Homo sapiens: one gene and its partners. The protein of the gene in region 1 purifies or fractionates together with the protein of each later gene. This does not show direct contact. Each region holds a gene or a part of one and is shown in the gene's direction. Other genes may lie near its edges.

Region 1 (3,685 bases):
TAGCCAGGCGTGGTGGCGCACGCCTGTAATCCCAGCTACTTGGGAGGCTGAGGCAGGAGAATTGCTTGAACCTAGTGGGCGGAGGTTTCAGTGAGCTGAGATTGCACACTGCACTCCAGCCTGGGTGACAGAGCGAGACTCTGCCTCAAAAAAAAAAAAAAAAAAAAAAAGGATATGAGATTTGAATGGATACCATCCAAAAAAACTTGATTGTCCTGTCCACTTATGGCTTGGTGAGATAAGTTGCTCAGTGTAATTTCTGATCAGGGAATGCAAATGGAAACCAAAGTAAAAAACCATTTATACCCATCAGATTGGCGAAATTAAGAAGCCTGCTGATAACTAGTGTTACCCAGGATGTCGCACAGCAGGTGCTGTCATGCACTTACGATTGGAAAACATTTTGGCATTTCTTAGTAAAATCAAACATTTTCCAGTTTTGTTACCTGGCAGTTTTATTCATTGGTTAAAAAATATCTTAATGAAATAATTTCATGTAGATAGAAATGTACGTGACATTTTGTTCATACCAGCAAAAAAATGGAAAACAACTCAAAAGTCCAGTAGTGCAAAGGATAAGTAATACTATACAGCTATTAAAATCAGTGAACACACCTGCATGTACCACTGAATGAATCATGAAGACAATTTTGAGTTAAAGAAGCAAGTCACAAGGGAATACATGCTGTATGTTTTCATTTATATGATGATTAAAATTTGGCAAAAAAGAAACAATGTTCGGTGGTAAATCTAAGGAAAGGTTGGGGTGATGAATAATTATGAGAGTCCTTCTCACTGGGCTGAAGGGGTGGGAGGGACAGTAGAAGGGCTTTGGAAGTATTAATCATGTTTCGTCCTCCCAATCCGATGTACCTTGCTACATCAGCATTAACCACCTGCCACCTGGATTGCTGCAGCAGCAGCCTCTTAAGGCTTCCACAAACCCATCTTCCAGCCACCCACTCGTGGTCTGCTGAAGTGCCAGTCTGATAGTATTGCCTGAACAAAACTCCTCAGTGGCTCCTCTGCATTGGAGGATGAAGTCTAGATTTATGAGCTTATTTCCTCATGCCCTCTCCCTGCCTTCACCTCTAGCTTGTACCCTGCACGACCTGTTTGCTACACACAGTCCCTCCACAGAGCCATGCTTCTTGCCTCTGCACTGCTTCTCATGTGCTTTCCTCTTCTCTGAAAAGCTCCCCCTTTCCCCTATTCCTTTCTCCTGATGAACTCTTAGCCATCTCGAAAAACCCAGGCCACTTGTCATCCCTAGAGGCCTTTTCTACCATTATTCCTCTTCTCCACAACCTTGGTGCTTTGTGCTGTGTGGGAACGTTTCTTAATGCATGTATTTGCTCTTGTTCTGTCATCCCTCTAGATGAAAAGCTTGTTGAGATCAGGAACTGTATCTTACTCTCCTTTGTGTTTCTAGGGCTCATAGATGTTGAATGAATGCCTAATTATTTAAATGATAGAATATTGGATTGGAAGTTAGGAAATCAGGTTCCATGTTGGTTCTGCTTTTGACTATGCCATACCAGGCTCATTTGAAAATTTTCTCCCACCTCCAAAATAGGAACACTTGAGATGCTTTATTATTTGCATATTTTCTTTCCACTCTTGATACTTCTGTCTAAATCAGTGAGGCAGGGCATGATTCCTAGTTTTCAGGAAACTGCACTGGTCTTTTAGTAATGCAGTTTACTAAAGAAGAGTAAATCTCACTCGTTACTGAATGTCAGTGACTTCAAAAAGTTTGTGGGAAAAATGGAATTAAAATATAAAAATAAAAACTGTAAACTTTATTTCTCAAAATAAGCTCTATCAAGTTTAAGACACTTTTGCCCATGATGATACCAACCTTTTAGTTCATCCCTAAAGAACTGAGGGTCCTGTGAATTGAACCACGTCAAATGCGGTCTTTTACATTATTAACAGAAATGAGTGCCCTTTAAAGATTTTTTTAAGATTAGGAAACAAGAATAAGTCAGAAGGAGCCAAATCAGGACCATAAGGTCCTAATGGCTTCCCATCAAAATGCTCACTAAATAGCCCTCGGATGAAAGGAATGAGGAGGAACATTGTCATGCTGGAGAAGGACTCTGGTGAAGCTTTCTTGGGCGATTTTCTGCTAAAGCTTTGGCTGACTTTCTGAAAACACATAAAAAGCAAACGTTACTGTTCTTTGGTTCTCCAGAAAATCAACAAGCAAAATGCCTTGGAGCATCCAAAAAAACATTATGACCTGTGCCCTTGACCAGTTCACTTTGGCTTTGACTGGACCACTTCCATCTCTTGGTAGCCATTGCTTTGATTGTGTTTTCAGGTTCATACTGGTAAAACCGTGTTTTATCTGCAGTGGCAGTTCTTCAAAGTAATGCTCTAGGATCTTGATCCCACCTGTTAAAAATGTCCATTGAAAGCTCTTCTCTTGTCTGCAGCTGATCTGTGTGCAATGGTTTTGTCACCGATCGAATGGAAAGTTTGCTCAACTTTAATTTTTCAGTCAGGATTGTGTAAGCTGACCCAACTGAGATGTCTGTGGTATTGGCTGTTGGTTCTGCTGTTTATTTGCGATCTTCTTCAGTTAAGACACGAACAAGATACATATTTTCCTGGCAAATTGATGTGAATAGTCTGCCCTGAGGGCTTCAACATTGTTTCATTCCTTCTTGAAACAAGTTATCCATTTGTAAACTGCTGATTTCTTTGGGACATTATCCCCATAAATTTTTTGTAAAGCATCAGCGGTTTTACCATTCTTCCATCCAAGCTTCACCGTAAATTTGCTATTTTTTCTGCCTTCAATTTTAGCAAAATTCATATTGCTGTTACAGGGGTTCTTTTAAAACTGATGTCTTGTCCTTCTTAGTGCCTCATACTGGATCCTGTTCATACAAGTTACTACAAGTTTATTTTGGTGCAAAAAAATGGTGAAATCCTTGCATAATTTTTTTCATAATACACGTTTTCCATGAGCTTTTTGAAGATTTCTTATATATATGTATCTTTTCCAACGCATGAAGCATTATTGAGGACAAAAATAGTCTTAAATCATAAAAAAGATTTATATCCAATATACTAGAAGGTCTGCCTTTCAATTAACTCTATGTAACAATTTCCTAGTCCCCCAGCCTGTGGGTCTCTTGCTGGTAGCTTCACAGGTAGTCCCAGAATAGAGGGGAAAAACGGCAGTGTCACACGGAAGTGGGGGAGGCAGGGAGCTGAGTGCCTGGAGCTGCATGAGGCAGGTGTTTCCTCTCGTGAATACCCACAAAACTGGGATAAAATGTTTCCCTTCTGTGGCCTGCTCTCTAGTCAGAAAGCTTACTGGGATGAGAACAGACAGTGCTCTTACCCCTAGATATCTCTTCTTTCATTAATTCACTTCATTTCTCCAAGTACTTTCTGATGGTGGTCATGGTTACAATTCCAAAGCAGAAAATAATAGAGGGGAGATTTGTTTTTTTTAAATCAAAATGAGGAAAGGCACATCTGAAGAAGAGACAAATATGTACATTTTTCTGAAGGTAACTATTACACATATTCACTTTTTTTTTGAATTGTGGAATTGTTCATGAGTATGTAAACATAGAGAGAGTAATATGAACCCTGGGTGTCTATCTATCAGCTTTGACAATTGTCAACAGCTCTGTTTCCCTTCTTGTTTTATGTCTGCTTTTAA
Region 2 (3,685 bases), on another chromosome or scaffold:
TTTGCCTGGAAGAATGACCATCATTCCCTTCCCTGGACAGAAGCATCCTCGTGGAGGACTTAAGGCTGCAGATGAGTAGAAACACTACTTCACTTGGCTTTGGGATTTGCTCTGTGGACTTCCCCAGTCTAGGCAGGTCCTAGCTGAAGCCAGAGTATCCCCACCACTGAAGGTCCAGGGTGGTGGGGATACTCTTTAAGAACTGGAACAGCAAGTCAGAGGGAGTAATGGGGGGGCAGGGTCACTCAGTGCAGTGGTTAAATATGAAGCACCAAAGAATGGAGGCTAGGAGATAGACAGGCCTGGGTTCAAATCCCAGGGCTGCTAAGTACAAAGTCTGACATTTGCAACAAGTATTTTATTAGTGAGTACCTACCATGTGCCACTATTGTAGTCTCTCTGGGTGGGGAGGTGAGCACAGCCGCAGGCCCTACACATGTTACTGAGCCACTCAGCATCCCTTCTGCATTCGTTCCACTATTGCATTTTGAGAATCTGTGCTAGGCAATGGAGATTCAGGTGGGAACAAAACAGACCTGTTTCCTGCCCTCGTGGCATTTACAATCTAGTGAATACCACACAATTAGATAATTACATAAAGAATTCATCATGACTGTGCCAAGAGTTATGAAGGTATGTAGGAAGCTTCGAGAGCATGTAACAGGATGATCTGACAATGTCTGCACAGTTTTCTCTAAAGAACAGAGGTAATAATGCTTAACTCTCAGGGTAGTATTGTAGAACTGATAACTATTCGTGTTATTTTAGAAGTAGCCCCTGGACCACCAGACAGATGCAGTTCTAAATTCCCTACGTGAATAATCCATCCATAGGCAACAAGTTGATTCTTCATCTTCCACTCAGTCAGAGAAGCCAGGCCAGAGAAGCTGGGATTCAGTTATGGCTTCTCCTGGACTCCAGAAGCCTGTGATAAATAATATAGTTTCATTGGAGAAACATCAAGTCAGAGATTTTTTTCTAAGTGGCAGTATAGTGACTACAGCCAGATTGCCAGGGTTCATCCTGGTTCTGCCACTTGCTGTGATTTTGGGCGAGTCAATCACACTCTGTTTTTTAGTCTTGCCATCTGTAGAATGGAGCTAAAATTTGTAACTATGACGTAGATTGTTCTTGGTGAGGATGAAATGGGTTAATTCCTGTAAAGCGTGTAGAACAGTGCCTGGCGCGGGAGGAGTAAGTGCTTTTCATCCTTGGGTGGCCTGCGTGCTCCTTTTCCTGCCCACACACACAACACTGTCTTGGGTTCTCCAGCTGCAGGGAGCACTGTCCACCTTTGATATTCTTAAAACTCAAGGGAAGGAGTTGCCCTCACCGTCTTGGTGGTCAGTCCTGCATTTCATCCCCCTCACTCGAAGACGGTTTTTATGCCTAATGAGTCTTTTCTTGCCAAAGCTTGATTTCTGGGAAGGATTTGTCCCAGCAATCCTTCATTTTCATCTCTGGAACTGACAGTTCAAGGAAGTAGCCAGAGTGATGGGTAAATTTGGATCCAGGCCCAGAGGGACCTGAGAGTCACTGTGAGCCTGGAGGGCAGGGGAACACCTAGCTGCCAGCCCCCTCCCCTAGAGAGGCTGGGTCTAAAATTAAACATCCAGAAGGACTCCCCAGGCCAGGTGCAGTGGCTCACACCTGTAATCCCAGCGCTTTGGGAGGCTGAGGTAGAAGGATCGCTTGAGCCCAGGAATTCCAGAGCAGGCTGGGCAACATATGGAGACCCTGTCTCTACAAAAAATTTAAAAATTAGCTGGGCATGGTGGCACACCAGGTTAAGCAGGAGGATCGCCTGAGCCCAGGAGGTCGAGACTGCAGTGAGCTATGGTCATGCCACTTCACTTCAGCCTGGAAAACAGTGAGATCCGGTCTCAAAAAAAAAAAAAGGACTCCCAAAATCCAAGATGAGCAGTAGATATTGTAGAAGCTTCCTCCCTGGATCATTTTCTGATGAGGATAAAGTCCCTGCTGGCTGAGTGCCAGGGAGGAGGTTAGATTCTGAAAGCCCCTCACACTTAGGGAAGTAGGATGTGAGTAGCAGGGTCCATTAAAATGGCCAAGCAGCCTCCAAATCTGAAAGAAAGGGGGGTTACCTGCTGCTGTAAAGTCAGGAGAGGCCCTTCCTTGGTCACTTTAGCCGGGGACCTCAGGATTTCAGCTTTTGCTGTCAGTAACACTAAGCATCAGGCATAAGAAAGGGCAAAGTCAGTGTGGGTCCCGCACAACAGGGAACCTCAGGGCTCCTCCCTGCGCCTCCTGCTCCCCTGCTCGGGGATAGAGCGGCTCACAAGGGCGGTCAAGCTCTCATCACTGCAGTCCTCGGCTACGCCATCGCTGTCCCCACTTTACAATGAACGGGCAAAGGCCCAGAGAAGTTGTGTGGTTCAAAATCCCCAGAGAAGTTGTGTGGTTGTTCAAAATCCCCAGATCATAGGCACTTTGCAGGGGGCCTTCCAGGCCACAGCAGCTGAGTGGTCAGAACCCTTCCTCCTCTCCTCGCCGCTTCTCACCAGCTCTACCTATGGCAAATGGAGCCCGAGAATACAGGTGCGGGTCCTTGGGATGAGGCCACTAACGCGTTGAGTAGAAGCAGGAGGCTGGGTGATTTAAATCAGGCAGCAGCCTTTACAAAAATTAGGCAGTGATTCCTTGGAGGAATTGAATCAGCTCTCCCTCCCTGATGTTGGGTTTCCTTGGGCTCTCCATAAGGGCTCTGGCACCTCCTTCAGGAACACCTGCTCTGAAGCAAGGAGGGAGGCCCCAGGGTGGGCAGTCTTGAGTGCATGATGGGACACCCCGCTGAATCCAGAGCTGCTCCAGCCTCAGCAGCCCTATCTGTGATGGCATGCTGATGTCATCAGCACCAAAAGCCCTTGCAGGTTTCAACTCGGCAATTAAACGGCTCCTCTGAAGCCCAGCAGCCGTGTGTGTGTGCATATGTGTGTATTCAGGGTCCTAGGGGTGGGCTGGGGAGGAGGGCCCCTTGCAAAGGCAGGGAGAATGGGAGTTAGTGGGTGTGTGACTGCTTCTCTCCTTCGGAGACTCCAGACCTGAGAAGTCAGATCCCTATGGGACTCACAGCCCAAAAGTCAACCCTTGCGTGCAGGTGTAGCCAGAGTCTAAACTCAGCCTGAGCCAGAGCACCCCATTCCTTCCTTACTTCCTACTTTCCTCCCGCCTTTTCCTCCACGTTCCACTCCAATGCACTAAGCACCTACTCTGTAAAAGGCACCTGGGATGTAAAGGAGAACTCAAAATAACCGTGTCTCCTCTATCAGCCTGGGCGCTCCCCAAGGCCAGGGCATGTTGTTTCTCCTCCTCTCCTGGGTCCCCCTAGCCCCCAAAGTGGAGTTCTGAAGCTGGGAGCATTGATGGTGGCTGGTGCAGAGTGACAGGGCTCCCAGATGCTCTCCAACCCCAGGATAGTCGCCTGTCAACACAAGGCTTTCCTCAATCACAAAGCTTGCTTCACTTCCTCCCATCCCCTGCAGAGAAACTAGAAGCCCAAGGGCCTCATCACTGGACAGTCTGGGACCAGGGGAGGACAGCAGCTGGGTGGGGAGTCAGGAAAGCTCCCCCGAGGCATTTGTCAGGTGCCTCTCAGTAAGGCAGGGAGTCCTCAGACCATGGAGAACTCTGGCAGGACTTGCCATAATTGGGTTGATACAGTGGC
Region 3 (3,027 bases), on another chromosome or scaffold:
GGAGCTGCCCACAAGCCCAGGGTGAGTGCAGCTCCCAGGGCTCTGAGGCCAGCCCAGTCCCTCCTCCCTGGAGAAGCTTCAGGAGACCAAGGCGTCCTGGGCATGTGCCCAGGAAGCACCCCAGGTCCTGGCTCACTCCCTAGGTGACCCCGGGCCAGCCTGGGCCTCCTGCATCCGCAGTGAGGTGGGGTCCAGCCTGTGATGGGGAGGAAGGAAGCCCCAGGCAGACAGGCCCATGGTCACAAGGCCCCCTCCACAGGCCAGACTGGCGGCCTTGAAACGGCCAGACGACGTCCCACTCAGCCTCTCTCCCAGCAAGCGGGCGTGTGCCTCCCCGTCGGCCCAGGTGGAGGGCAGCCCTGTGGCAGGCTCCGATGGCAGCCAGGTGAGCTGAGGTGGCAAGGAGCAGGTGGCAGATGAGTCGGGGCTGGGCAGCTGTGACCCTTCTCTCCCCCCACAGCCTGCTGTGAAGCTGGAGCCCCTGCACTTCCTGCAGTGCCACAGCAAGAACAACAGCCCCCAGGACCTCGAGACCCAGCTGTGGGCCTGTGCCTTCGAGCCGGCCTGGGAGGAGGGTACATGGTGGCGGGCAGGCGGGGCAAGGGCCGCTGGAAATAGGGCCGCCTGGATGGGTGGGGGATCAGGAGACAGAGCTTAAAAGGCGCCATCAAGGCTGGGAGGAGGAGGCTGCAGGGAGGACCTAGATGGGAAATGTCTCTGCTCATCCGACCTCTCAAAACCGGGCACTCAGGGGCCACATCCCAGACCGTGGCCACGTGCGGCGGGGAGGCTGTGTGCGTAATTGATTGCCAGACGGGCATCGTGCTCCACAAGTACAAGGCACCCGGCGAGGTGAGTGCAAGGCCCTGTCCCTGCTGGGCAAGGGTGCCCGACTGACTCCTGAACAGCAGCATGGGGATGGATGCAGGCTCGGCCCCCTGCCCCATGGCCTTTTTCTTTCATGCTGGGGCTCCCTCCCCCAGGCCCGGGCTACCCGCGTGTTCACACCAATAGCTCTGCCCCAGTGACTGTTTACTCTAACCCCCGCCCAGGAGTTCTTTTCTGTGGCCTGGACCGCTCTGATGGTGGTCACACAGGCTGGCCACAAGAAGCGCTGGAGTGTGCTGGCGGCTGCAGGCCTACGGGGCCTGGTCCGGCTGCTGCACGTGCGTGCCGGCTTCTGCTGCGGGGTCATCCGAGCCCACAAGAAGGCCATCGCCACCCTGTGCTTCAGCCCCGCCCACGAGACCCATCTCTTCAGTAAGCCCCTCCCCTTCACCCCTGGGACCCCCAAGCACCCCTGTCCTGCTGCCCCAGTAGCCTCCACGCTCCCCTCCCTGGGATGGCTGTGAGCTCGGGCGCCTGCCGGGCCCCAGTCTGCACCGCTCCGACTCTAGCTTTGGCAGGAAGCCATGTCGCTTCAACCCTGGCTTTATCCACAGCCTGCTCTGTGGCCTCGGAGTTTTCCAACAGCCTGGGCCACTCTGTCCCCTGTCAGTGACCTGGGGGGATGCCCCTGCCCCCGGGTGTGGCGCCCCTGTCAAGGGGGATGGATGAGCCACAGGAAGTGGCCGCTGGAGCCACCGCATCAGGTTAGATGGAGGAAACAGGGATTGGGGGCCCAGGAGTGTTCCTGTCTCCTAGCCTCGGCCCGCCCTCCCCGCCTCGGAGGGGCTGGCCTTGGGACCGTGGGCTCAGCCTGGGATGCAGCCAGCAGGAGGGAGCAGGGTCATCTCAGGGCCACTTCTCCCCTACCCCACCCCCTCTTCAGCGGCCTCCTATGACAAGCGGATCATCCTCTGGGACATCGGGGTGCCCAACCAGGACTACGAATTCCAGGCCAGGTGATGCTTCGGGTGAGGCTGGGGAGTGGCCAGCTGCTGGGGCAGGGACACCTCGGTCTGGGTCTGATGCTCTGTTCCCCCTTGCCCACTGGCAGCCAGCTGCTCACACTGGACACCACCTCTATCCCCCTGCGCCTCTGCCCTGTCGCCTCCTGCCCGGACGCCCGCCTGCTGGCCGGCTGCGAGGGCGGCTGCTGCTGCTGGGACGTGCGGCTGGACCAGCCCCAAAAGAGGAGGTGAGGCTGGGCAGGGGGCGCCTTGGAAGCCAGGCCTCTGCAGAGGGTGGCTGTTGGCCCAGATGGGCTCACAGCAGCCTGGGCACACCCGGGTAACCATAAGGGTTGTTTTTAGAGGCCTCTTCGCAGAGCTGGCTTGTCCCACCTTTCTGCCAGGCTCTGGAGGAAAGGACTCTGACCCTGCTCTCACCCTGGGTTCAGCTGTGGGACTGGGCCATGATGACCTCCCCTTCACCTGGGGCTTCAGCACCATGCTGTGCCCACGTGATCCAGCCCACTCCTGCCACTCATCAGCAGTGTGATGGTCCTCTGTGCTGGCATAATGTCCTCATCTGTAAAGAGGGGCCGATGGCTAGCGGAGGGCAGGTGAGGTGGTGTCTGGGCAGGCAGGCTTTGGAAGTGCCACGTTGAGGCTTTCTGGCTCATCTGTCCCACCTGGAAGGCCTCTGAGACAGGGCTTGGCAAGGGGTCCCTGTCCTCTTGGGGCCCCCAGCCTACTGGGGAAGACAGATGCTCAGCAAAGGTGGCCAATCAAAATCCCACAGTGTGATGCCAGCTACGAAGGAGACGGAAAAAGAGTAACGGGCAGAGGGACACTAGCGTGGGGGCCTCAGGGGACTCTGCTGAGGTGACCAGCGGCAGATGGATATTCTGGGGCTCACGCTTTCCTCCCTGGGAGCCTGGTGAGGGAGTCAGCGGGCGGAGGGTGGGGAGGTGCTTGCATGGAGGAAATGGTACGTGCAAAGGTCAGTGGCAGGGGAGCCAGCTGGCCTGCTCCACCATGTGGCCACAGCTGGGTGGACCCAGCCCAGAACAAGGTGGCAAGGGTGCCTGGGCGGGGCACGCCGGGCTTCGTCAGCCACGGTAAGCTTTGCATTTCTATTTATTTACTTTTTATTTGAGATAGAGTCTCCCTCTTGTCACCCAGGCTGGAGTACAGTGGCTCG
Region 4 (2,814 bases), on another chromosome or scaffold:
AGTCCAAAAGGTTACTTAGGAGTAGTCTTCCGTGGGGGAAGATAAATTTATTAAAGAGTCATGTACTGATCTTTTTCTTGGGATTTTTTTTCCTTTCCCAGAAAAAAAAATTATTTTGGTGACTGATCAATTGTAAACAATTTTCTTCCTTACTTACAAATCATCCGTTCAGAAAAATAAAAGTGGACTTCCTTTCCTAAGCATTACAATTAGCCTGGGCAAGAGGTGTTATGATTGTCTTATTCTTTAAGCCGGCTTACTTTTTGGATTTGTGTGAAATGTCTTTTGAAAAGAAAGTAGATAGTATAGTATTAATTAACTACTTTGTATAGTCTTCTGCATAATTTAGAGTTGAAAATAATGTAACATTTTCCTGTGAACAGATTCCTTTATGCGTACATACTTTATAAATATACATACATACACATACACATACATTTTTAAAATGCTCTTTTTAAAGAGATTCTTATCTTGCTCCCACTCCAAAAGCTATGTACAGTTGAGTTATTAGCCTCAGAGGAAGAGTACAGGAAAGCGAAGATGAGGACCTCCTTTTCTTGTGTTGGTCTTGGGAACAAACAGTATTCCGTCTTTCAAATATGGCATATTTCTAAACAGTTTGGGAAAGATGTTAGAATTTTTTAAAAGTCAGCTCTTTTATAAATTGGAAGTACTCAGTAGTCAGAAATTAAGATCCCCTCTGATAGAGATAGATTCTCAAAACCAAAATTGGACTGAAAATTAGATTGAGAAGAAAGATACAACTTCCTCCATAGCCAATAAAATCTGTCTTTCCAAGTCTGCTTATTAATGCTGTGAATCGCTCCTTCTGTTTGTGAAAACATCTCCTGGACTGGAAATGTGGTGCTGTAACCAGCTGAGCCGAAAGTTGGAGAATGTTAAATATCTTATATGGGACTTACGATAAAATGTATTGATGTTAGTGATTGTCAAAATAGGTTTATCATTTAAAAAACTAGGAAATTACTAAGTATAAAGAAGAAAAACCAGTATTAATTAAGTGATGAGACCTGTTCATTTTGTTTTCCCTGACTTATTTCCATTACCAAACATAGTAAAGGCCAGAAAAGATTAAAAAAAAAATTAACACAGCCATTCCATTGTTTTTTACCACATGGAGAAAGGACCAGGCTGGAAGCATATGTCCCCCCACCCTTATTTATATTCCTTTGAGCATTGCCGTTTTCTAGACAGACAATCCGAAAATAATTGTGTTGATAGGTCTGTTTAAGCCTGAACTCTGGGTGTAAAATGTTATCCAGAAGCTATAGGGAGCTGCCTTGCTCAGGTCATTGGAAATTTCAACCCTAAGACTCATTGGAATTTCTAAGTCCGTTATGCACCATTATGGGCATATGGAGCATATTCATACCATGAGGAGGAGTCTTTGTTTATGATGGACTTTTTAATATGGCCATAATTAAACTCACACTCAAAAAGGATGAGCTATTGTCAAAAGCCAAAAGAAAAACAGACAAAATGAACATGAAGCAAGGAGTCCATAAAACAAGAGTTCTTTACCACGTTTAAGCAAATGTCTCTCAAAAAAAATTGTATTTCTGTGCACATTAGCTGAGATTCACACATTTTGCACCTCAGTAGTATTTCAGATGAGACTCAATGTGTGGAGAAAACCGCTAACTTGTTTGGTTCTACTCTTACCCCCTCTTCTGTGGCAATGTGGGGTCAGGGCCGTATCCTAAAGTATCCACATGGTCTTAAATGGAAATCATGGGACTCTGGAAAGCTGGCATGAGCTGGTTGGAGCTTTTAAACAGAAGTGCTTTATGGGTATCAGATCTCTTCTGACATCAATTGTTTCAAATCATTGTTGGGCTCTGTCGTGTTCTGCAATCTTCCCCATTCCCCTCATGATCTCTGGCTTATCTTTTATCCAATCTGTATGGACTTTTTAGGATTTTTTTTTTCTTATAGTACAAATAATTTTCAGATCCCAGCTTTGGTAAATGTGTTAATTCTACTTTGTGAATAAATAAATGAGTGATCTGCTAAAAATGGCAATTGTAGAATTATGTTGTATGTAATGTACATATGGAGAAAGAATGTATTTTGTTCATTTTCTTAATAAAATGTTATATATGGATGCTACAAGATATCTCTTGTATTTGCTCAAACTACTTTTGAAGTGAACTTTTAAAATGTTTTTGTACTTTACAGTTGTGTTTTTTCCCCCAGAAAGGTGAGTTTTATTTAGGCTTCCAAAAGGAAAGTGATACGCTTTCGAAGGGCCTTTGGGTGTTTTCCTTTGAGACGGTGCTCAGATGAACAAGTACCGGCCATGCTCACAAAGTTTCTGCGGGGAGGCTTCCACTTATTTAAAGACCACTGGTAAATTATTTCATGAAATGTTCTTCTATCTACTGTTAATGACCACCCTTATTTTATTTGCTTTGTCCACTTGGACTTATGTTCCTCTTTAAAGGGGATATGCTTGTACAGGCTGGAACTAGAAGGAAAGACTGAACTGAAATGGAAAATTCACTGTAGAAAAGATAGTAAAGGGAGAGAACCTAGAAGTGTTGCAGTTTGGGAAAATTCTGGATCCCTGTCCCCATTAAAGGGGAAAGACACTTTATGGGCCAAATCTTGAAAAAACTAAGCTGAGAAATATGCCAGATAAAAGTCCTGGGTCACTGGGGCCGAGTGGTGGGACTCTTAGTAATGAGATCCCCTCTCTGCCCTTTCCACCTCCTGGTCTGCTTTACATCGTGGCTTTGTGATCATGCATTCTGGAGTGAATTGTCAGCTGATTTTATTCCAAACAGGGATCAT
Region 5 (3,685 bases), on another chromosome or scaffold:
TTGATAGAAAATAAGATTTAGTTATCTTTGTTCAGTTTTATTGTAAGCTCAGAAAAACCCCATTTTAGAACATTATTTTTTATTTAGACATTGGATTTGAAATTTTGCTAATTAGACATTGACTAGCATTACTATCTTTTCCTCTCTCCTTTAGCTCTTAGCTGGTCTTCGTTTCAGTGTGCACCAGCAGTCAGAGATGGATACTTCTGTGAAATTTGACTTACAAATCCAAAGGTATGAAAACAACTTATATTCACTTATAACTATCAAATAAATATTATTTGTTGTAAATATACTATGTAATATACTTTAAATATAAAGTAGCAGATTAAATTTTATTGCTTGACTATAGCATTTTAAAATCAATATTTACATTATAAGAATAATTTTATTGTCAGATTTGAGTTTGTAAAACAAAATTTAAAATCCAGAAAGAAAATGTTCATCTTCTTGGAATTAAGTGTTAATGAAAATAACTATTTTGAGGTATAAGCTTTACACTTGTTTCGTTTGTTAATTTTTAGTTTCACTGGGTTTGCCTCTGTATGTTCTTGGTTGTTATGCATAATTCATTTTTAAGTTTTTTTTTTTCTTTTTCAGCTCAAATCTATTTGACAAAGTAAGCCCAGTTGTATCTCACAAAGTTGATCTTGCTGTTTTAGCTGCAGTTGAGATAAGAGGGTCAGTATGAATACTTAGTTGAGTATCTCATTCTCATGATTGCTTTTTAAAGGTAACTGTCAGGCCTTAGCCTTTTCTGGACAATAGACCCTGCATGTTTAGTGGTGGTTTTACTAGGGCATTAGCTTCTGTAGAAATAAAATCCTAGGTATGTTCCAAACCCCCAATACTGGGTGATCCTCAAAAGGAACAAGACATGGCAACAACATGCACAAAATAATTTTGTTGAACTTTTACACAAATTGTCAATTCACCTGTTACGTGTACATTTCATAAGAGCAGTTTTTGTGCATGTGTGTGTTCATTAGTTTTCTTTTAAAGTATTTTTTAAAATTAAATCTAATTTTATTTATTTGAGTAATGAATATGGGGTACTTTTGAAAATGAACTGACTATATCATTTTGATATTCATGGTAGGTTTTCTTTGGTCATTGTTTAGAGTCTCGAGTCCTGATCATGTCTTTCTTCCGATTCCAAACTGGGAGCACAAGGAGAACCCTGAGACTGAAGAAGATGTTGGGCCAGTTGTTCAGCACATCTATGAGGTTTGCAGTTGTTAGATTTTACTCAAACCTCGTGAGCAAGCCAACGAAGAGAGGAACAACTAAGCTACTTTAAAAAAAAAATTCTATGTAATTTTTATGTAAACTCTACATTGGTTAAGTATGTGTCAGAGATTTCTTTGAATATTTTCCCTATACATAAATTCATTTTTATTTGACAAATAGACTTGTTTAAATAAAGCAGTTTATATAATTTGTTGTTTAAAATAAATTAGTTCTACTTGAATAAAGAAATGTCATTGGTACTTTCTCATGGGCATTTTGTAGTTCTGGCTAAAAATTGAAAATACCTATGGCAAATAATCAAAACTATTTCTATAGGAAGAAATTTTCTTTGTCATCCTTCATTAATAACTTTTAAATATTTTGCCTTTTGTTTATACATACATACATATATATATATATATATATATATATATATATTTTTTTTTTTTTTTTTTTTTTTTTTTGAGGTGAAGTCTTGCTCTGTCGCCCAGGCTGGAGTGCAGTGGCGCGATCTCAGCTCACTGCAAACTCCACCTCCCGGGTTCAAGCGATTCTCCTGCCTCAGCTTGCTGAGTAGCTGGGATTACACGTGTGCACCACCATGCCCGGCTAATTTTTGTATTTTTAGTAGGGACAGGGTTTCACCGACAGGTTTCACCACGTTGGCCAGGCTGGACATGAACTCCTGACCTCAAGAGATCCGCCCGCCTCGGCCTCCCAAAGTGCTGGGATTACAGGCATGAGCCACTGTGCCCAACCTTGTTTATATTTTTATCCTGACACATATTACTCTGTGTTAGAGACAAATGTTGAGTTTGATCATTTTTGCATAAAAATGGTCACATTGTAATTAGAGGTTAACTGTGGAAATTGCTGTTATTTAAAACCTATTGCTAACATGATTTCTAAAGTTGATGTAGGGGAAGGATTATGGAACAGATTTTTGCCCAAGGTGTAGATACATTTTCTTTTTTCTCCTTAGCTGAGAAACAATGGTCCAAGTTCATTCAGCAAGGCAATGCTCCATCTTCAGTGGCCTTACAAATATAATAATAACACTCTGTTGTATATCCTTCATTATGATATTGATGGACCAATGAACTGCACTTCAGATATGGAGATCAACCCTTTGAGAATTAAGGTAATATGCTTAATAGCAGCTCTTCATTACAATGATATTTCATTGCCTTCTTTCTAAACCTGTAAAAGAAATTCATAAAATAAAACAACTATTTTAATATAAAACCCACTCTGCAAAAAATGGTTTAGTTCATAAGCAGTACACTTAGGATAAGTTCATTTGTATAATGGGTAAGAATTGATTCTGTGATGTCTAGTGAACCACATCTTCATAGAGTGCTTACTGAGCCTCATGAGATGTGTCCTTCAGTGACTCAGTTTGACCTTGGCTCCATCACGTTGTTGTTTCTTCAGGGCATAATATCACATCAAGGGTGTTTTGTTGTTAAAATTTCTACCTTTGGGATAAGCTATACCATTTTACTCATGATTATCTTGACTTTTGGATATAGTCATCTCCATCATAGATTTGCACTAGAAACTATTACACAATATGATCTAAGGAAAGGTGAAGAAACAAAATAAAAGATATACCCATGATTGACATCACAAATGTACTGTGGAATTTCAGGCCATTTCTGTATGTTTCATCAGTTTCCACTCTAGCTAAGCAAGGGCTGAAAATAATGGTTAGGGAGAGCTAACTTTTTTGGTACATATTAAAGACTCTAATCTTTATTTTCTGTCCTTACTGCTCACTATATACTGAGTGGTAAATATTCTGTCATACTAAATTTTCATTCACTATTTTTTAATCATATCTAAGAGTTTATATCAAAATGCTGATGTAAAATGTTTTTCATTATCATTTACCACCATTTTATTAATGTGATTGCATTAGATCTCATCTTTGCAAACAACTGAAAAGAATGACACGGTTGCCGGGCAAGGTGAGCGGGACCATCTCATCACTAAGCGGGATCTTGCCCTCAGTGAAGGAGATATTCACACTTTGGTAAGTGCCATTTCAAATATGTGCACCATAGACATTTAAAAATATGTGACTATAGAACTGACGCCAAAGAACATTTCAAAAATAACAACAGCTGTGCTTGAACAACTACATTTATTTTTATACCATGCATTCCTCTCACTTTCCTTTTTCCTAGTCAGATTAATGCCATATTTTCTTCAAATGAGCTATTTTTGTAGATGGCTAATAAAACTAGTTTATGTCCCAACTTTGATTCTCCTACTCTAGTTCTTTAACTGTCCTCTTTCTGGGCCTCCTCCTAATCTCTGAGGCTTTAGTACGATACTAAAAAATCCAGAAGGTCCCAACAAAAATACATTGGAATAATAATTAGCACTTGATTAACCTTTGTTGAGTTAGCCTATATAATGGCTATAATGTTTTTAAAGGCAATTGTTTTTC
Region 6 (2,694 bases), on another chromosome or scaffold:
CCCATGCTTCTACCTGGACTAATGCACAAGGGGTTGGGGTCATTGCTGTTTCTCTATCCCAGAAGGCAAGCCCACCCTTGCAGTAGGGTCTGTTTTATCAGGTCTTTTGAATAACTTCTGAGATCACCTCTTCAAGATAGCAACTTGGGGGAGATTTTAAAGAGAGTCTTTGGCAGTGGGAACTGGGGAGGGTTGCATAACAACAGCCCGACAGGATGTTGGGTTGGCGTGGGAGAGGGAGACTGACCTCTTCTTCCACCTCTCCATCTTGATGAGACTGTAATTTGTGTCGTGACGCCTTCTCCCTGTGCCCTGAACTGTGCTCTTGGATGTGGCTCATGGAGCCTGTGTTCTTAATGAGTCTGAATCATTTCCCTCCCCTATAGACACGGGTCCTGGAAAACGGAAGAGAGAAGATGAAGCCCCTATCTTAGAGCAGCGTGAGAACCGCATGAATCCCCTCCGCTGCCCTGTCAAGTTCTATGAATTCTATCTCTCAAAATGGTGAGTTGGTGGGTTGGCAGGAAAAGCGTTAGCATGGGGACCCGAGGGATCTACTTTGCCTTGGTACTGATCTTCTGTCCTGCCACCCCCACTCCCACTCCCACCCCCGATGTTGCAGTCCTGAAAGCCTCCGGACTCGCAACGATGTGTTCTACCTGCAACCTGAACGGTCCTGCATCGCCGAGTCACCTCTCTGGTATTCTGTGATCCCCATGGACCGCAGCATGTTGGAGAGCATGCTCAATCGCATCCTGGCTGTGCGCGAGATTTATGAGGAACTGGGTCGTCCTGGGGAGGAAGACCTGGACTGAGCTCGTGTGCCATCCATATCCATCTTTCACATCAATGTCTGTCCTGTGGCCATGTCCCTCAGGGTGACAGGCCCAGGAACCAATGCTACTCATTCTGAAGGGCCCTGACTGCTCCTTTCCGCTCACCCATTCCCTGCCTTCTCTAGGAACCCTGGCTTTTATCTTCTTCCGTACCACTTGACAACCATGGGGCCCTGGTCTTCTGTACTCAGGGGCTGGTCTCCCAGTGATGGGCAAAAGCCAGCTTGCCCGTTTTCTTTATGCTTCAGAGTAAACCCCTCCTTCTGGGTCCAGACTCTGGGTGGAGTGTTAATAGCTCTGGTGATCCTGTTGGCTTTGGGTTTCCTGACCCATCCCGCATAGGTAGAGCCTCTTGTTCCTAGGCATGACCTAGGGAAAAACCCAGCTGCCTTCTCTGCCCTGTGCCCACTCCCTTCTCTACTCTTCCCCAGCACCATGCCAAAAGGTCTTATCTGAAAGGTAAGAAATAAACAATGAAAGCGATGAGGGGACCATTTACATAAAACACAGAGCTTAGACACTCTTCCCCTCCTATGAAATAATTGGTTGTTGGCACCATCTCACCACCGCATATCCCTCACCCCCTCGGCAAGCACCAATCCTTGGTGCTGCCGTTTTTAAAATCTTCCAAATGCCTTTTTTTCCTCAGAGGCAGAGAATGACTAAGTACGGGGAGCAGACTCCTGTTGTGCAGACTCCTGTCCCCTTGGTTTCTGTGTTTGTCTCTCTGCCATCTTAGGTTGCCATGAGCCATGGTGTCAACATGCTTAGCCCCCTCTGTAACTGCCTCCCTTTAGTTCAATGGACAGACCTCCCAAGGCAAAAACTACCTTCTGACTTGGGTTGAGGCTGGGTTCCCCTCTATTGTTCCCCTATCATAAGAGCTAGGCCAAGCCTATGGGACCTTGAGTCATGCAGGATGGGATCTGTGGTCAAAGGACAGGCGAGGAGCTGTGGGCGCAGGGCCTGCCGCCACTGCCTACATCTTCTCTCTTCCCCATCTTGCATTGGAGGTCCCAGAAAACAATTAGCTTCTGGCAAAGGGGGTACCCACTTCTTTCCCTGTTGACTTTGCTGTTTCCCAGGCTCCTTTTTGTGTTTTTATAACTGTCACCAGTTAGCCACTGTTTAAATTGTATATATTGTTCTGAGGCGCCTGGCCTGTCCCTTCAGTGAGCCATGCCCACCCTTGTGTTGTAGTGAGAAGCTGTTGTCACGACTAACCTTCTGTCTCTGAAATTGTTTGTTTCAAATAAAGAGTTAAAATTGTCTTTTGTCTTTTCTGGGTGATGGATATAGAGGAGCAACACTGGATAACTTCAAATCTCTCCAAGTGTAAACAAGTCAGGTGTTTGAGAATCGTTCTTACTTTACTGTCTTACTTTGGATCTACTGGGAATGTGGTGTTTTTTTTGTTTTTTTTGTTTTTGTTTTTGTTTTTTTTTTATAACAAGTTTCCAAACACTTAAGGAAAAAAAAATACTCACTCACTAGCTATGTATTAAGGACCTATTATGTTTAAAGACCTAGATTACGTGCTTCAAAAAATACAAAAAGACTGGTTAGACCAGGATCCAATCCCCAGCAGGCTCCCAGGCTATAGGGGAGACCAAATAGTACACAATTAGTCATAATACAGGCAGAATAAAATGAATAGTGCTATGGGAGGACAGAGGAATAAATAACTCACTTCAGGTTTACAGGGAGGCTGGGTGCAGTGGCTTGCGTCTGTAATCCCAGTACTTTGGGAGGCCAAGGTGGGAGGATTCCTTGAACCCAGGAGTTCAAGACTAGCCTGGGCAACATGGCAAAACCCCATCTCTAACAAAAATACAAGAATTAACTGGGCATGGTGACG
Region 7 (3,685 bases), on another chromosome or scaffold:
TGTTGGGCTATACAGTGATCCTCATCAACAAATTATCAAAGAACTGTATGAGGAAAAGGTCTCTTTTTTTAAAAGTGAATCAGGGCTGGGGAGTTAGGAATGAAGAGGTTTTTTTTGTTTGTTTGTTTGTTTTTTGACGAGTCTTGCTCTGTCACCAGGCTGGGGTGCTGTGGCGCGATCTCAGCCCACTGCAACCTCCGACTCCCTGGTTCAAGCGATTCTCCTGCCTCAACCTCCCGAGTAGCTGGGATTACAGGCATGCGCCACCATGCCCAGCTAATTTTTGTATTTTTAGTAGAGGAGGGGTTTCACCATGTTGGCCAGGGTGGTCTCAATCTCCTGACCTTGTGATCTGCCCGCCTCAGCCTCCCAAAGTGCTAGGATTACAGGTGTGAACCACCATGCCCGGCCAAAGAGTTCTTTTTTCAGCTCCACAGCTGGACCGTCTTAATAATATGACAGCACAGATGAAGAGTTTTAAACCTTTTGTTGGCTTTTCTTTCGTATCTTTTTGGCAAGGGCACATGAAAATTAAGTACTGATAATATCACAATGAAAGCAGCTGTGTCATTCAGACCAGTGACCATTTTAGGTTTGATGAACTTTTCATTACCATCATCCAGGGTCTAAATTCTCCATTGTAAGGTAAGGATTCTCCAGGGTGGTGGTGAGGTGGGTTGAGATTGCATTTGTATCATTTGTGTTTTTATGAACTCTGAAGATCCATGTCGGGTGAAGGAAAGGATGGGAGGAGAAAAGGAAATACTTTGAAAGAGGGATAACTTGGACTGTTTATTTCCTTATGTGCTGGGTAAGAATGTCCAGGTGACATCTATATGTAGTAAATCAGTATTTCTAGTCTGTGGACCACACTGTAAACTTTTTATCTTTCTAAAGTTTTTTTTATTTTTGTAGAGATAGGGTCTCACTTTGTTGCCTAGGCTGGTCTCAAACTCCTGGGCTCAAGTGATCTTCCCACCTCAGCTGAGTAGCTGGGACCGCAGGGGCATATCACCATACCTAGCTAATTTTTGGTTGTTTTTTTTTTGTTTGTTTGTTTTTTTAAAGAGATGAGGTCTTACTTGCCCGGCTCAAGTGATGCTCCCATCTTGGCCTCCCAAAGTGCTGGGATTACAGGCATAGCCGCAGCACCCAGCTTGAAGATATTTTTATATTTCCAGGGTTTTAGGTGTTTACTTAAGAATTGTGACATCTTATTAGGTAGTATTTCCTAGGATGATTAGAGTGGGAGGCTAAGAATGCTTGTGACCTTTTAGTTCCCACCACCAACCTCTTAAAGTGCAGTCTATTTATTTATTTTTGAAATAGGATCTCACTCTGTCACCTAGAGTGCAGTGGCACTATCATGGCTCACTGCAACCTCGACCTCTTGGGCTTAGGTGATTCTCCCATCTCAGCCTCTCGAGTAGCTGGGACTACAGGTGCACGCCACCGTACCTGGCTAATTTTTGTATTTTTTGTAAAGATGAGGTTTCACCATATTGCCCAGGCTGGTTTCAAACCCCTGGGCTCAAGCAATCCTCCTGCCTCAGCCTCCCAGAGTGCTGGGATTACAGGCGTGAGCCACTGCACCCTGCTAAATGCAGTCAATTAAATGTATAAGAATCTGCCAGGCTGAGTGCGGCTGGCTCATGGCTGTAATCCCAGCACTTTTGGGAGGCCAAGGTGGGAGGATCACTTGATCCTAGTTGTTCAAGTCCAGCCTAGGCAATATTGAGACCTTGTCTCTACAAAAAGTTTAAAAAAAAAGCCAAGCATGGGGCAAGTACTTGCAGTCCCATCTCCTTGGGAGGCTGAGGTGGGAGGATTGTTTGAGTCCAGGAGGTAGAGCTGAGATTGCGCAGTGATCACTGCAGTGCGCTGAGATTGCGCCTCTGCAGTTTAGTATGGGCAACAGAGCGAGACCTAGTCTCAAAAAAAAGAATCAGTTCCAGTGCCATGGTCCTTAGTGTGGAGTAGGACCAACCTAAGACAGAAGCTTGTCTACAGAGAGCTGAAAGAAAGCAGCCTCTTTGTTGCCAGTTTAAAACAATACTGGCATTTTAAAAGCAAACAGATTCTAGTAGGAGACATTGTATAGAAGCGCACCCTGTTGTGAAAGACTGGGATCTTGAGTTTCGTGCTCTAAGTCTTGTATTCTATCAGGGGAGTAATAGGCTTTTAAAATCATAAAGTGACTATTAAAATGCTTTCAGTAGATAGATTCATTACTCCATTATTTCTACTGTATAAAAGTTTATTCTAAACATGTCTAGGAAATATCCAGATTATAAAAGAGAAATAACGGTATCCAAACCAGACTTTTTATTGCATAACATTGGTGTTAGAGTTAGTTTTTAAGTCTCTGAGATTGAATTAGCTTTTTTTTTTTTTAAAGCAGATTATCAGTGAGCTAAGATAATCTGCTGTTTACCCTCACCTATTTGGAACACAGGCAACTGAATTAATTGAATCAGCAATAGGCATGGGGTAGTGACTTTGTATATTTTCATTTTAGAGCCAAAAGCCAGTGAGTTTTAGATTAGCTTTATAGTAATATTAAAAACTTCATCTTTTATTTTTACAAATGTAGCCAAGAAACATCATTGCTGTTAAAATCAGTCAGAAAAGGAGGCTACTTGCTCTTTATTGATTTAGTCATTCTGCTCTTGGAGTGAGTAGAAAGTCTTTGAAAGCTTTTCAAAAATTAGCGAGTGATGAATTTTATGAATTAGTCACTTCTTTGCAGCAGTTTTTTTTTATCTCTACCTCTGTAGGACATAGTTCCTGGGCCAGAAGCCAGATTTCTCAAGTACCATCTAACCCCAGGAATGTGTTATGATACAGATAAATTAATGAACGGAGGCTGCCTTGAGGTTGCCAATAGGGCATTGGGGAGTAATTAATATGACAAAGATGTCATCTTATTAATGAAATGTATTAATAGTATGTCTAGTGGATTGGGTCAATGCAAACATTTTAGATTAGATATTTGCTGTTTATCCTCTGAAGTTACTGTTTAAGGAAGTCTGGCCAAGTTCTAAAGTGAAGCATACATATTTGCCTCACGTGCCATTTTTTTTTTTCTTCCTGGCTTTTTCTTAGCCATCTGGAAAGCTACTATAGGGTTTACCTCTAATGGTAGTCAAGTTACTGTATTCCTCTGGTGTACTTTAATGATTGCCACATTACCAGGTATGTTTTGTTAACCTTACTTAGAATCCAACATTAGACCCTTTCTTCTAACCTAACCTGTAGGAAGGCACTTCTTGAGGTTTTAAGCCTCTCTTTAATGTTTTATTGTAAGTTGTACCTTGGGAGCATCATTTTTTCATCTTAAATCCTCTCCAGTTTAAGAAAAATTTGAAATATAAATGGCAAAAACTGTTAATGGCAACAGACTTCTGATGTAAATGTAAATTGAGATGGAAACAAAATGAAAAGTAGATTTCCCTAGGAATTAGTTAAACTGAGATAAATGGTCCTGGATGTTTTTATAGAAAGTTCTCTTAGCCAGGTGCAGTGGCATGTACCTGTAATCCCAACTACTCGGGGGGCTGAGTTGGGAGGACTGCTTGAGCCCAGGAGTTTCAGGCTGGCAACATAGCAAGACCTTGTCTCTTAAAAAAAAAAAAAAAAAAAAAAAAAAAAGTTTGCTTAGTTCTGCTGCTGGAAATTAACACTT

Evidence for each region.
Region 2: the proteins of GGH (region 1) and SYT2 purify together in Homo sapiens (co-immunoprecipitation; one large-scale study listed by IntAct). This does not show direct contact.
Region 3: the proteins of GGH (region 1) and LRWD1 purify together in Homo sapiens (affinity purification with mass spectrometry, with the first as the bait; one large-scale study listed by BioGRID). This does not show direct contact.
Region 4: the proteins of GGH (region 1) and MKLN1 purify together in Homo sapiens (affinity purification with mass spectrometry; 3 studies listed by BioGRID and IntAct, with this or other methods). This does not show direct contact.
Region 5: the proteins of GGH (region 1) and ITGAV purify together in Homo sapiens (affinity purification with mass spectrometry; 2 studies listed by BioGRID and IntAct, with this or other methods). This does not show direct contact.
Region 6: the proteins of GGH (region 1) and ZMYM3 purify together in Homo sapiens (affinity purification with mass spectrometry; 2 studies listed by BioGRID and IntAct, with this or other methods). This does not show direct contact.
Region 7: the proteins of GGH (region 1) and DCAF8 purify together in Homo sapiens (affinity purification with mass spectrometry; 3 studies listed by BioGRID and IntAct, with this or other methods). This does not show direct contact.

What each region holds. Positions count from the first base shown.
Region 1 is NC_000008.11:63,018,155-63,021,839, reverse strand, and holds part of GGH (gamma-glutamyl hydrolase isoform 1 precursor), read left to right. Parts: intron 1-3,685. UniProt on the Homo sapiens protein: Hydrolyzes the polyglutamate sidechains of pteroylpolyglutamates. Progressively removes gamma-glutamyl residues from pteroylpoly-gamma-glutamate to yield pteroyl-alpha-glutamate (folic acid) and free glutamate.
Region 2 is NC_000001.11:202,703,936-202,707,620, reverse strand, and holds part of SYT2 (synaptotagmin-2), read left to right. Parts: intron 1-3,685. UniProt on the Homo sapiens protein: Exhibits calcium-dependent phospholipid and inositol polyphosphate binding properties. May have a regulatory role in the membrane interactions during trafficking of synaptic vesicles at the active zone of the synapse.
Region 3 is NC_000007.14:102,467,803-102,470,829, forward strand, and holds part of LRWD1 (leucine-rich repeat and WD repeat-containing protein 1), read left to right. Parts: coding exon 1-21; intron 22-259; coding exon 260-385; intron 386-460; coding exon 461-575; intron 576-751; coding exon 752-852; intron 853-1,052; coding exon 1,053-1,260; intron 1,261-1,771; coding exon 1,772-1,844; intron 1,845-1,939; coding exon 1,940-2,080; intron 2,081-3,027. UniProt on the Homo sapiens protein: Required for G1/S transition. Recruits and stabilizes the origin recognition complex (ORC) onto chromatin during G1 to establish pre-replication complex (preRC) and to heterochromatic sites in post-replicated cells.
Region 4 is NC_000007.14:131,494,503-131,497,316, forward strand, and holds the end of MKLN1 (muskelin), read left to right. Parts: 3' UTR 1-2,130; downstream 2,131-2,814. UniProt on the Homo sapiens protein: Component of the CTLH E3 ubiquitin-protein ligase complex that selectively accepts ubiquitin from UBE2H and mediates ubiquitination and subsequent proteasomal degradation of the transcription factor HBP1.
Region 5 is NC_000002.12:186,666,550-186,670,234, forward strand, and holds part of ITGAV (integrin alpha-V isoform 1 preproprotein), read left to right. Parts: intron 1-154; coding exon 155-234; intron 235-600; coding exon 601-681; intron 682-1,121; coding exon 1,122-1,227; intron 1,228-2,212; coding exon 2,213-2,371; intron 2,372-3,151; coding exon 3,152-3,265; intron 3,266-3,685.
Region 6 is NC_000023.11:71,239,037-71,241,730, reverse strand, and holds the end of ZMYM3 (zinc finger MYM-type protein 3), read left to right. Parts: intron 1-386; coding exon 387-504; intron 505-622; coding exon 623-815; 3' UTR 816-2,107; downstream 2,108-2,694. UniProt on the Homo sapiens protein: Plays a role in the regulation of cell morphology and cytoskeletal organization.
Region 7 is NC_000001.11:160,255,979-160,259,663, reverse strand, and holds part of DCAF8 (DDB1- and CUL4-associated factor 8), read left to right. Parts: intron 1-3,685. UniProt on the Homo sapiens protein: May function as a substrate receptor for CUL4-DDB1 E3 ubiquitin-protein ligase complex.